Linked DNA regions of Homo sapiens. The protein of the gene in region 1 purifies or fractionates together with the protein of each later gene. This does not show direct contact. Each region holds a gene or a part of one and is shown on either strand. Other genes may lie near its edges.

The links.
Region 2: the proteins of BNIP5 (region 1) and MMACHC purify together in Homo sapiens (affinity purification with mass spectrometry; one large-scale study listed by BioGRID and IntAct). This does not show direct contact.
Region 3: the proteins of BNIP5 (region 1) and GNPAT purify together in Homo sapiens (affinity purification with mass spectrometry; one large-scale study listed by BioGRID and IntAct). This does not show direct contact.

What each region holds. Positions count from the first base shown.
Region 1 is NC_000006.12:36,330,343-36,333,992, reverse strand, and holds part of BNIP5 (protein BNIP5), read left to right. Parts: intron 1-3,298; 5' UTR 3,299-3,302; coding exon 3,303-3,650.
Region 2 is NC_000001.11:45,498,846-45,503,236, forward strand, and holds the start of MMACHC (cyanocobalamin reductase / alkylcobalamin dealkylase), read left to right. Parts: upstream 1-1,454; 5' UTR 1,455-1,487; coding exon 1,488-1,568; intron 1,569-4,391. Other genes in the region: transmembrane protein CCDC163, read right to left, coding at 500-598, 687-764. UniProt on the Homo sapiens protein: Cobalamin (vitamin B12) cytosolic chaperone that catalyzes the reductive decyanation of cyanocob(III)alamin (cyanocobalamin, CNCbl) to yield cob(II)alamin and cyanide, using FAD or FMN as cofactors and NADPH as cosubstrate.
Region 3 is NC_000001.11:231,261,562-231,265,211, forward strand, and holds part of GNPAT (dihydroxyacetone phosphate acyltransferase), read left to right. Parts: intron 1-1,161; coding exon 1,162-1,291; intron 1,292-3,650. UniProt on the Homo sapiens protein: Dihydroxyacetonephosphate acyltransferase catalyzing the first step in the biosynthesis of plasmalogens, a subset of phospholipids that differ from other glycerolipids by having an alkyl chain attached through a vinyl ether linkage at the sn-1 position of the glycerol backbone, and which unique physical properties have an impact on various aspects of cell signaling and membrane biology.

The DNA.
Region 1 (3,650 bases):
CCTCCGTGCGATGGGTCCCATGGAGCCAAATCTGTGCAGACGGAAGAGAGGCTGAGCTGAACAAGAGTGTCCTGGTTCTGTGGTTTTGTTAATGAACAGCTTCTCTGACAACCCCATCCAATTTTCCCTGACCACAGGAACATATGGAAAATGCAGAGAGAACCCTGACACCGTTCAGTAAATATTTCTGGTCAGCTTACTCTTTTTTAAATGTGAGCTTAAATCACATAGAACTTCAACCTAAATTTATCTTCTTTTAAGACCATGTGCCTCTGAAGAGAGAGCAGATGCAGGGGAATGGGACATTGCTGTCATCACTGTGTACTCACATCCTTATTCCTGCGCATTCAGAGAAGACCAGAATATTCCCTCTGGGGGCACACACTGCATCTTGTTCATGATTGTATCCCTAGCACTGAGCATAATTTCTGGTGCAGAGTGGGTGCTTATTAAATGTTGAGAGAAATAAGTGAGAACAAACATAAATATTTTCCTCTATGATCTCTTCTCCTTGTCCTACCCTGCATCGTCTTTGGAAACACAACCATAAGGCAGCCAGTCTCTGAGCCTTTCAGGAACATTAGTGAATTTCCATATAAGGTACAGATACATATTGCTAAAAGTTTCCATGTAGCCCAGATGTTCCTTTTAAGGAACATTAAACAACAAATAAGTCCTTTTAAATTGCCTGCCTCCTCCCCGACCTGATTTCTCATTTCCTCCAAGGTCGTCCACGTGTGGACACTCGGCCCCAATGGCCTCTGGCCTCAGCGACCTGGGGCTGCAATACCATCTGGTTTCCTTCCCATACTGGTGCTTGGAGGAGGGAAGGCATCCCAAATGTTCGTGTCACCTTCAAATATGTGTGTTCCCATTTCTTTTCTTCTTTCTCTGTATCTTCTTCACTTTCCTGTGGATCCCACACATAAGAAATCGCAATTATAGATTCTTATTTTTGCCTCTAAGCTGAGCATAGCAATAGAATACATTTTACAGTACATCCCATACCACTAAACATTACTTGGTCAATGCATGCTAAAGCTATAATGACAAATTAGAGCAGGCAACCTGTGGTCCTAAACTCCATAGGACTCTCCAGGGGCTCAGGTTTGGCATTCAAAACCATATTTTATTTTTCTTTTACCTTCCACTGAAGGGAAGAGGCCTTCTGAACAACTCTGGAAAAATTGGAAAGCCCCAAGAGTTTTAGATTAAAGACACACAAATCAAATGCACTGCCCACACCTAGGCGGGCTTGAAATGCTGCCCAGGTGGGAAAGGTTTTTTTTTTGTCATTTTTCATTGGCCGCTGCTTCATTCTGGATGGAGAATGGAAGAGCCCCCACTGCTCTAAGATGAAATTGGCCCGAAAGCACTGATTTCATGTTAACTACACATCCAAAGATACCTTACGTGTTGTGCCATTTACTAAATGTGTTATACATCTATTCATTTGTTTAATAAGTGCTTATTGAGTGGCAGTGATATGCTAGACATTGTTCTAGGCACTCAAAGATAGAAGACCTAGCAAAATAAACACAGGAGATGGAGAGAGACTCAGACAGGAAACAACTAAACACATAAAGACACGACATTGCACACCACCAGGCCGTAGGGTAGGAGGGGAAAGGGTGTGCTGATGGGCAATAGGCAGGGAGGGCCTCGATGGGAAGGTGACAGTTAAGTACAGCCTCAAAGGAAGTGAGGGAACAAACCATGAACAAACTCATTCTTTCCATGAGGGAAGAATGTTCTAGAAAGAGGGACTGGCCAGTGTGAAGGGCCTGAGGCAGGCGGGCCTGAAGGACAGCAAGCAGGGCTGTGTGCGTGGAGTGGAGTGAGAGAGATGTGGTCAGAGGGGTGATGGAGGCTGGGACGTGTGGGGTGTGACAGCCGCTTTAAAGACTTTGAGTGAAAGGGGACCTCTTGGAGGAAGGGAAGTAACTTTTGTTTTAAAAGCCCCCACAGCTGCAAAGGGGAGAAGTTACTGTAAGGAGGGCAAGAGGAGAGCAGGGAGGTCAGTTAGGAGGTGGTGGTAACAGCTCAGGTGAGTGCAGATGGGGACCTAGAGACCACAGGGGGCCGTCAGGGTGAGGACAGGCTCTATGAGAGTGAGGCCAACAGGCTCTGCTGATGGGTCGATGTGGGGGTAAAAGAAAGAAAGGAGGCCAGCAGTGGCTCATGCCTGTAATCCCAGCACTTTGAGAGACCGAGGTAGGTTGATCGCTTGAGCCCAGGAGTTTGAGACCAGCCTGCACAAACACAGCAAGACCCCATATCTATTTTCTAAATAAAATTATTTATTTTTTAAAAAAAGAGAGAAGTCAGGGGTGACTTTACATTTTTGGCTTGAGCAGTTGGAAGAAAAGAGTTGCCACTGACGGAGCTGCCTCGTGGAATATTCATGACAGCCTGTGAGAGAGGGCAGGGCTCAGGCATGCTTCAGATGAGAACACGGGGCCAGAAAAGGTGCCTGAGCTGCCCAAAGTCCCAAGGCTAGTGAGGGGCAGGACCAGGCCTCTGGCTCCGGCTGTATTCGTTTTCCATTGCTACTGTAACAAAAGCCCCCAGACCCAGTGGCTTTGGACAAGATGAATTAATTATCATGCAGTTCTGGAGAAGTCCCACATCAGTCTCGATAGACTAAAACCTAGGTGTGGACAGGGCTATGTTCCTTTCAGGGGCTCTGGAGGTGCGGCTGACCAGCCCTGAGATCTGAGCACAATCTTCCTGTGGTCCAGTTTTATCCTCTGGAAAATGAGAATAATGACCCCCATTCCCCGAGGGTTTTGGGGGAATTTGCACAAGACAACAGCTTTGAGAAATTGTTGACACTACTCACGTTAGTGGGCAGGGTGAATGGGCCCACTGGTCAGCACCAGGAGCCAACTTTGGTGTGCCCAGGAGGCCTCTGCTGAGGGAGCTGTTTGGCCGGGCGAGGTGGCTCATGCCTGTAATCCCAGCACTTTGGGAGGCCGAGGCAGGCGGATCACCTGAGGTCGGGAGTTCAAGACCAACCTGGCCAACACGGTGAAACCCCATCTCTACTAAAAATACAAAAATTAGCCGGGTGTGGTGGCGGGCACCTGTTATTCCAGCTACTCAGGAGGCTGAGGCAGGAGAATCGCTTGAACCCAGGAGGTAGAGGTTGCAGTGAGCTGAGATAGCGCCACTGCACTCCAGCCTGGGCAATAGACCGAGGCTCCGTCATAAAAAACAAAAACAAACAAAACAAACAAACAAACAAATCAAAACAAACAAACAAAAAAACTAAGGGAGCTGTGTGTTTTGGTTGCAGCCCGATGGAGAATCCAAGGTGCCCAAGGAGGCCCCTGGCGGAGAAGAAAGCCAGGTCTCTGGACAGGCCGCAGGCCCCCGGGAAAGGCTCGGAGTCGTGGGACTGCCATTGGCTCTCCCTGCCCACTGCCCCCTCCAGGAAGGCGCTTCACTGGACGACCAGTGATTGGGCCAGACATTCAGACAGCCCAGCTCCATCTGCAGAGGCTCACTGCACCACCGCTGCAGCCCCCACTCCCGAGGAGACCGGAGATTTTCTCCCCAGCGAGCAGAGGCCTTCGCAAGACACCAAGAAGGGGTGGCTGAAGACCATGCTGAACTTCTTCGTGAGGACGGGCCCTGAGGAGCCCAGA
Region 2 (4,391 bases), on another chromosome or scaffold:
CTAGCAGGCCCTGCACTGCCTGCCTTAGTGCCTGTCACCTCCCCAGGCAGAAAAAAGCACATGAACTACTGTATAACAGCTTTTCCCGACCCCTAGTATCCTCATCTTACACAAACATCACATATACACACCAAGGATTCCAAGCCTCACCTGAGCCTGACATTGAAATTAGGATCAGAGAATAGCAACCTCACCCCAGAGAGAGGATGGGCTCTAGGACTCAGGGCAGCTCAGCCTTTGTGGAACTATGGGAGTCTCTAAAGCCCAAGGCTGTTGAGCTTGGACTCCTGACTGCAGAGGCAAGTGATGAGAGGAAATCCAGGTCCCAGCCAGGTCCCCGGCTGAGGAAATAAGGAAGGGTTAAGTGCAGGGTCTGTGTGGGGAAACAGAGTTCAGGAAAGGACAGAGTTGGAATTTGGAAGGAATAATGGATGATACGGGCACTGGAGGAAGGCACAGAAAGAGAAAGGGCTTGGAAGTAGAAAGAGACATTACTTACCTGCGGTGGAGACCCCAAGAAGATACAGCCACTGCTACAGAAGAAACAGATGCACAGGCCAATGAGCTCTGTGGAGACCCCAAGAGGATACAGCCACTGCTACAAAAGAAACAGATGCACAGGCCAATGAACTCTGAGAGTCCCTTAGCCTCCCCACGCAAACTGGGGACCTCCACCAACCCCTCACCTTATTCCGGACCACATTTCCATCAGTAGCGTTGAGAAGCACATCCAGCTGCTCAAACCAGCTGAGGCTCGTATTCATATCCTGTGGCAGGGGAGCGGCAGGGGTCTGGCTCCCTGGTGTCTTGTGCTTGCTCTCCTAGCGGGGGATACCCAAGGTATCCCCAGGAAAGGCCACCACGTTAGATGGAAAGAGGGAAGTGGGGATGCAACACTGGGGTAGGTGGATGCACTATCAGACCAAAACTGCGATCCTGTGACTAGGGAAAGGAAGGACGCTCTTGGGGAACTGGGGGAAAAGCGGGATACCGTGATGATACGCAGATATCAGGTGGGGATTGAAGGTGCCAGAACCTGGTTGAGACCTCCCCAGAAGTAGTACACTGGCGCCACCACGCCAAACCTGTGCCAGTGACAACTGCCGCCGCCGGGTTCAAAACTTCGGGTTGGTTTTGAAAGTCCGACTTTGGACTGGCTGCCGCAGCGCCACCTGGGAAACTGAGGTCGCCTCTTGCGAACACAACCGGCGATGGAGGCGGTGGAACTACCTTTCTCTAGAAGAGACACGTACATGCACACCCCCACCGTGTAGCTTGCCGGGAAACTGAGTCTTCCTGATTTCGTGTGGCTGTCTCCAAGGAGGAAACGAACTACGCATCCCAAGATGCATCGCGCATAGGCAATATGGTCCCGCTACTGGACCCATTTCCTACCTGGGAAATGGAGTCGAAGCTGACTCAAAACGTAACGGCCCAATTGTCCTTGAGACTTCATTCCCCAGCAAGCTCAGCGTGTAACGTGCGCTATGGAGCCGAAAGTCGCAGAGCTGAAGCAGAAGATCGAGGACACGCTATGTCCTTTTGGCTTCGAGGTTTACCCCTTCCAGGTTAGTTTATCCCTCCTGCTGTTCTAGGGCGAAATATATGATTGGCTTCGTTGCAACTGGCGTGAGGCCTCGGGAGCCTCTGATCCTCCTGGGTTCCTGCAGCCCAGTGTCCATGTGACAACAGGGACAGAGTTTCAGTGGGGGCTTGGGTTAAAAAGGTAGTGGTCGAGGCCGGGCATGGTGGCTCACGCCTGTAATCCCAGCACTTTGGGAGGCCGAGGCGGGCGGATCACCTGAGGTGAGGAGTTCGAGACCAGCCTGGCCAACATGGTGAAACCCCATCTCTACTAAAAATATAAAATTAGCCGGGCGTGGTGGTGCATGCCTGTAATCCCAGCTACTCGGGAGGCTGAGGCAGGACAATTGCTTGAACCCATGAGACGGAGGTTGCAGTGAGCCGAGATTGCGCCATTGCAGTCCAGCCTGAGCAACAAAGAGCGAAACTCCGTGTCAAAAAAAAAAAAAAAAAAAAAAGTTGTCGCATGTTTAACCTTTTGCCACCATATAATGCCGGATTCGTTAACGGGAGACACCATATGACCTGTAGCGTGTGTGGCTCAGATTGTCACCTATATAATTTACAAGAAGAAAGGGACCTGTGAGGCAAAGTCACCTTGGAACTTCCTAAAGGATTTAGGAGAGGGCAAAGCCTAGAAGGTTTGCATAGCTATCATTTAGGTCAGCTGAGGAAGGAAGGGCATTCCTGGTGATGAACAGGCAAACAATTGGCTGGTTTGTTCCCTCTACCAACAGAAGGATAATTCATGATATTTCCAGTCATCAGTGCTGGGCTGGGTAATGAAACTTTGTACACTTGCCTGGCACAGCAGTCTCAGCACCGCACCCCGACCCCCATTTACACGGTTACATTTCCCCACATCAGTGCCCTGTGCACTGAGCAGTTAAGTTACAAAGCTAAATCAGCTCAGCTTGAGCCCTTTGCCTGATGCTTAAGAGACTACCCACTTCCCATTCCTTCTGCTGAGTGGCTCACAGCAGTCCTGGGAGAGGATATAGAGGGAGAAGTAGGTTGGGTCTAGCTTGAGACTGGTCTTGCCAGAAAAAATGGAATTGAGCTATATATGAAAAGATAGATTGGAAGGAAGGAGGGTTATGTACATCCCAAATATCAGAAAAAGCTTGAGTAAAGGTGTGGAGATAGTGGTGTGGTGTTACCAAGTAAAAGGGCTTGATGCCTGATGTGCTGGAAGCTAATATTATGACACTGGGTTTTTGAGAAAACAAAAGCTATTTGTTGCAGATCGACCTTTAACTCTTTGAGACACCGTTTCAGTGGATGGCAGGTGTGTGGGAGAGTGAGAATGCCTATCTGGCAAGTTGAGTAGACCTGGGTATTAGGAGCTTTTGTACTGAACAAAGCCAACTGCAGCCCTGCCAGTCACCCTAGGCTCCTACCTCTCACCTCCCTACCCCCACATCCAATCAGCCACCAAGACCTATAAGACTGTCTACTGAATCTCCCAAATCCATTCCCTTGTATTCCACCCATCTATGCTGTGGTCCAGGCCACCATTTCTCACTTGGATTACTGTAATAACCTCCTTGCTGTAATTTTACCTCCAGTCCCTCCTCCACACTGCAGCCAGTGTGATCTAAAAATGATCATGCTAGTTTACTCCTTAAATCTTCAGTGGCTCTTCACTGTCACCAAATTAAATCCATATTCCTTAAATTGGTATTCAAAGCCAATCAAAATCTCACTCCTATTGATCTCTCCAGCCTTCTCTCCCTCTGATTCCCTCTACAGACCCTTCACTTCCACCAAACTAGACAATTCTCAAATATACCCAGGAATTTTCTGCCAGTGTGTTTGCTTATGCTGTGACTTGTTTATTTTATTCTTTATTTATTTAGAGACAAAGTCTCACTCTGTCCTCCCGGCCGGAGTGCAGTGGTGCAATCATAGCTCACTGCAGCCTCAAACTCCTGGGCTCAAGTGATCCTCCCACTTTAGTCTCCCAAGTAGCTGACTCCAGGCATGCACCAACACTCAGGGTCTCACTTTGTTGCCCTGGCTGGTCTTGAACTCCTGGCCTCAAGTGATCCTCCTGCTTCGGCCAGCCACCCAAAGCACTGGGATTACAGGCATGAGTCACCGCACTCAGTCTGTGACCTCTTTTTAAAATACACACCAGTGAGTTTATGTGTTTTTTGGTGAAATATAAATAATAAATAAATGCACACCAGATTCTCCTCCCTACATCAACCTGACAGTTGACCAGTTGACTTTCTAGCCTTCAAGACTTAGCATCCAAGGAAGCCTTTTCTTTTCTTTTTTTTTTTTTTTGAGATGGAGTTTCGCTCTTGTTGCCCAGGCTGGAGTGCAATGGTGCGATCTCAGCTCACCACAACCTCTGCCTCCCGGGTTCAAGTGATTCTCCTGCCTCAGCCTCCAGAGTAGGTAGGATTACAGGCATGTGCCAACATACCCGGCTAATTTTGTATTTTTTTTAGTAGAGACAGTTTCTCCATGTTGGTCAGGCTGGTCTTGAACTCCCGACCTCAGGTGATCTGCCTGCGTTGGCCTCCCAAAGTGCTGGAATTACAGGCATGAGCCACCATGCCCGGCCACAAGGAAGCCTTTTCTAATTTCAGAGGACCCTTATCTGACCCTGTCATTGCACTAGCTATAGTACAGTCATTTCTATTGTTCTTAGTGGTTCTGCCTATTAGAACTTTCTGCAGCCAGGCGTGGTGGTTCTCACCTATATCCCAGCACTTTGGGAGGCCAAGGTGGGTAAATTACTGGAGGTCAGGGGTTCAAGACCAGCCTGGCTAACATGGTGAAATCCCGTCTCTACT
Region 3 (3,650 bases), on another chromosome or scaffold:
TCTGCTGTAAAGTTATTATTTTTTCCCTTTATAATTAATGAATATCTTGTGAAAAGACTCTTTGAAAATGGCTAAATACCCTGTTTTGCATCATACTTTACCCCACTCGTTTTTGCACCCACTGATGATTTTTGCCTGAATTAATTATTATGTTAATGATTGCCAAATGATGACTTTTCTAATTTCATAAAGAGCTTTCCTTATGAAGAGTATTTTTACTTATTTGTGTTTTATATTTTTTTCTTCTAGGAAAGCTCTTAACTTCACTTGCCTTCCTCCTCATCCCTTTTAATATTTTGTTTTAATTCAGTCATTTACTTTCCTGTCAAATATTTCTTCTTCCTACTGACTGTTTTCGAGATTGCTGACTTATACCCTGAATCTGTCAGAGAATGTTACAGTGTTTGGGACCAAGGGTGGTGGTGAGCCATTTCTTAAGTGATGATCACAGATTACCTGGCCTCTGTTACATTTAGATTTCAAAAAAACAGATAACACATGGATACCAGTGAATCTTGAGATTGATGGCCTGAGGAGTATATTTGGAAACTCAAATTATCCCTCCCAGCCACATGACACCCATTCACCCTGGCAGTGAGTCCAGCACATAGAGAAATACCATTCTTCTCACCTTGTCCTATGAATTTGTAGATTTTTTTTAATCTCTCCAAGAGAAGCTTTGTTTTCTCTTACTACAACCAACCAATTCAATACAGTGGTTAACAGTTGGCTTTTTAAGTCAGACTGACTTGGGTTCCATTCACAGCTCTGCCATTTATTGGATGCATGACCATTTTACAAACAAGAAAGCTAAGGCTTAGACCTTGTTAATTATGTGGTATTAAACAAAGCACGTAAGATAACTGTATATAAAATGATGCTAATATAGTGCCCAACTAATATATGTTAGCGATCATCACTGTTATTATTCTGATCCATAAAAATTTACATTTTTAATATTCTTGCATTATGTGAAATTGTTTAACTAGAAACAGTACTTTTACCTTATCAGAGCAAATCGTTTATGTGTATGGCAAAAAGGCAGAAAAAGAGGATGGGTATTCCCTCTAAATATAGACTTATTCTTCCGTTTTCTGATTTGAGATGTGATTTGATAACATGACAACTGAAATTATTCAAAATGTAACATTTACTTTCAAGCTACAAAGAGCCATCCAGGAGCATCCTGTTGTTCTGCTGCCTAGTCATCGAAGTTACATTGACTTCCTCATGTTGTCTTTTCTTCTATACAATTATGATTTGCCTGTGCCAGTTATAGCAGCAGGAATGGGTATGTATTGTTTTTCTGTTTTTTTAACTGTAAAAATTAAAAAGTTCACTGGCATATTCTAGCAGTACTGAGGTATTTGAAGATGATGATGAAAATAGCCTCTCCTCCTTTCTTCCAGTCCTAGCACTGAATAACTTGAGTTATGTCCTTTGTCCTGTGCTTTACTGTGCCTGAACAGACATCTGCAGGAGTTCATGCACACAGGGTTCTTTGGTGTAGGCTTAAAAAATGAGACTGCACTACTTACAGGTATTAGCTGCCTTTTGCTTTTTTTATTTGATAATATATTAATGGCTACCTCTCTAGGCAATAAATAGATCTAACTTTTTAAAGTTTATTTTTAATTGTGATAAAATACATATAACATCAAATTTGCCATCTAAGTCATCTTCAAAAATATAGTTCAGTGGCATTAAGTACATTTACATTGTTGTGCTGCTATCAACACCATCCATCTCCAGAACTCTTCATCTTGCAAAACTGAAATGGTACCCATTCAACACACTCCCCGTTCTACCCTCCCCCTGACCCTGGGCAATCAGCATTCTACTTTCTGTCTCTGTGAACTACTCTAGATGCTTGATATAGGTGGAATCATACAGTACTTGTCCTTTTGTGACTGGCATATTTCACTTAACAGAATGCCCTCAAGGTTCATCCATGTTGCAGCATGTGTCAGAATTTCCTTCCTTTTTGAAGTTGGAAATGCATCTGCTCAAGACCCTGCTTTCCATTTTTTTATATATATACAAAAATGGTATATATGGAATTGCTGGGTCTTGTGGTAATTTTTTTTCATTTTTTGAGGAACCACCATACTGCCTTCCTTAGCAGCTGCACCATTTTACATTCCCACCAAAAGTGCACAAGAGTTCCAGTTGTTCTACATCCTTGCCAACACCTGTTATTTTCTGATATGTTTTATAATAATTTTAATGAGTGTGAAGTGGTATCTCCTTGTAGTTTTGATTTGCATTTCCCTAATGATTAGTGATGCTGAGCATCTTTTTTGTGTGCTTATTGGCCATTTGTATATCTTTGGAGAAATGTCTGTTCAAGTCCGTTATTTTTTAATTAGGTTGTTTGGGGCTTTTTTTGTTGAGTTGTAGGAATTGTTTCTACATCCTGGATATTCACCCCTTATCAGACAGATGATTTGCAAATATTATCTTCCATTTCATGGGTTACCTTTTCACTCTGTTGATTGTGTTATTTGATGCATGGAAGTTTTTAATTGATGTAGTCCAATTGATCTATTTGTTTCTTTGGTTCCCTGGTTCCCTGTGCTTTTGGTATCAGATCGAAGAAATCATTGCCAAATCCGAGGTCATGAAGCTTTTCCCTTATGTTTTATCCTAAGAGTTTTATGGTTTCAGGTCTTACATTAAGATCTTTGGTTTTTTGAGTTAATTTTTGTATATGGTGTAAGTTAAGGGTCCAACTTCATGTCTAACATTAATTTTAATAGCCATATAATATTCAGCAGTGTGGATATTTCATAATTTAGTAGTTTTGCTGTTATAAACAATGTCATAATACATTTTTATATTGGTGCTTTTATTCCTGTAAGATCGATTCCTAAAAGTGGGATTGCTAAGGCATATAAGTTGTTTATCCACTCCCTTTTAGGGTAGCCAGGAAAGCCAGGATTCAAGTATACACGTTTGTTAATAAATGCAGTGAATGGTAAGGTTAAAACTGCCAAGAACTTAAGCACTTTAAAAGCATTTTCATCTGAACAAACTTGTGAGGAAGTTATTTGAAAACTAGGGGAAATGAAGAGAAAGACTATTTTAAAACTGCTGGTAGCAATCTTCCTTTCTTACAAGATTTGCCTTATTTAATCTCTTCCAACAAAAGTAGGTTGATGTTTTTTCCTGGTAGGCAAAAGATGAGAGCGGGTTTGGCCTGGCTGTCCAGAGCATGAAGGGCACATATTGGTCTGTTGTCAGGCTCAGCAGCATGGCTGACTAAAGACATTGACATCATGACATTGTCATGTTGCTCTGCTGTTGCCCCTGGCTCTAGCTGGCCTACTTGTAAAGGGAGTGGTGCATGGAGAAGCACAAGGTAACCTCCCAGTGAGCACCTGGCCCACAGAATCCCTTCTTTTCTATAATTCTATTAGGTATCTCTTATGTATTTTAATGTCAAAGTATAATAATATCATAGGGGTGTCTTACATTTATGAAATCTTTCTTAATAATGTTTGAGTTTAGGCCAGGCACAGTGGCTTATGCCTGTAATCCCAGTACTTTGGGAGGCCGAGGCAGGAGGACTGCTTGAGGCCAGGAAGTTTGTGACCAACCTAGCCAACATAGCGAGACCCTGTCTCATAAAATAAAATAATAAAATATAA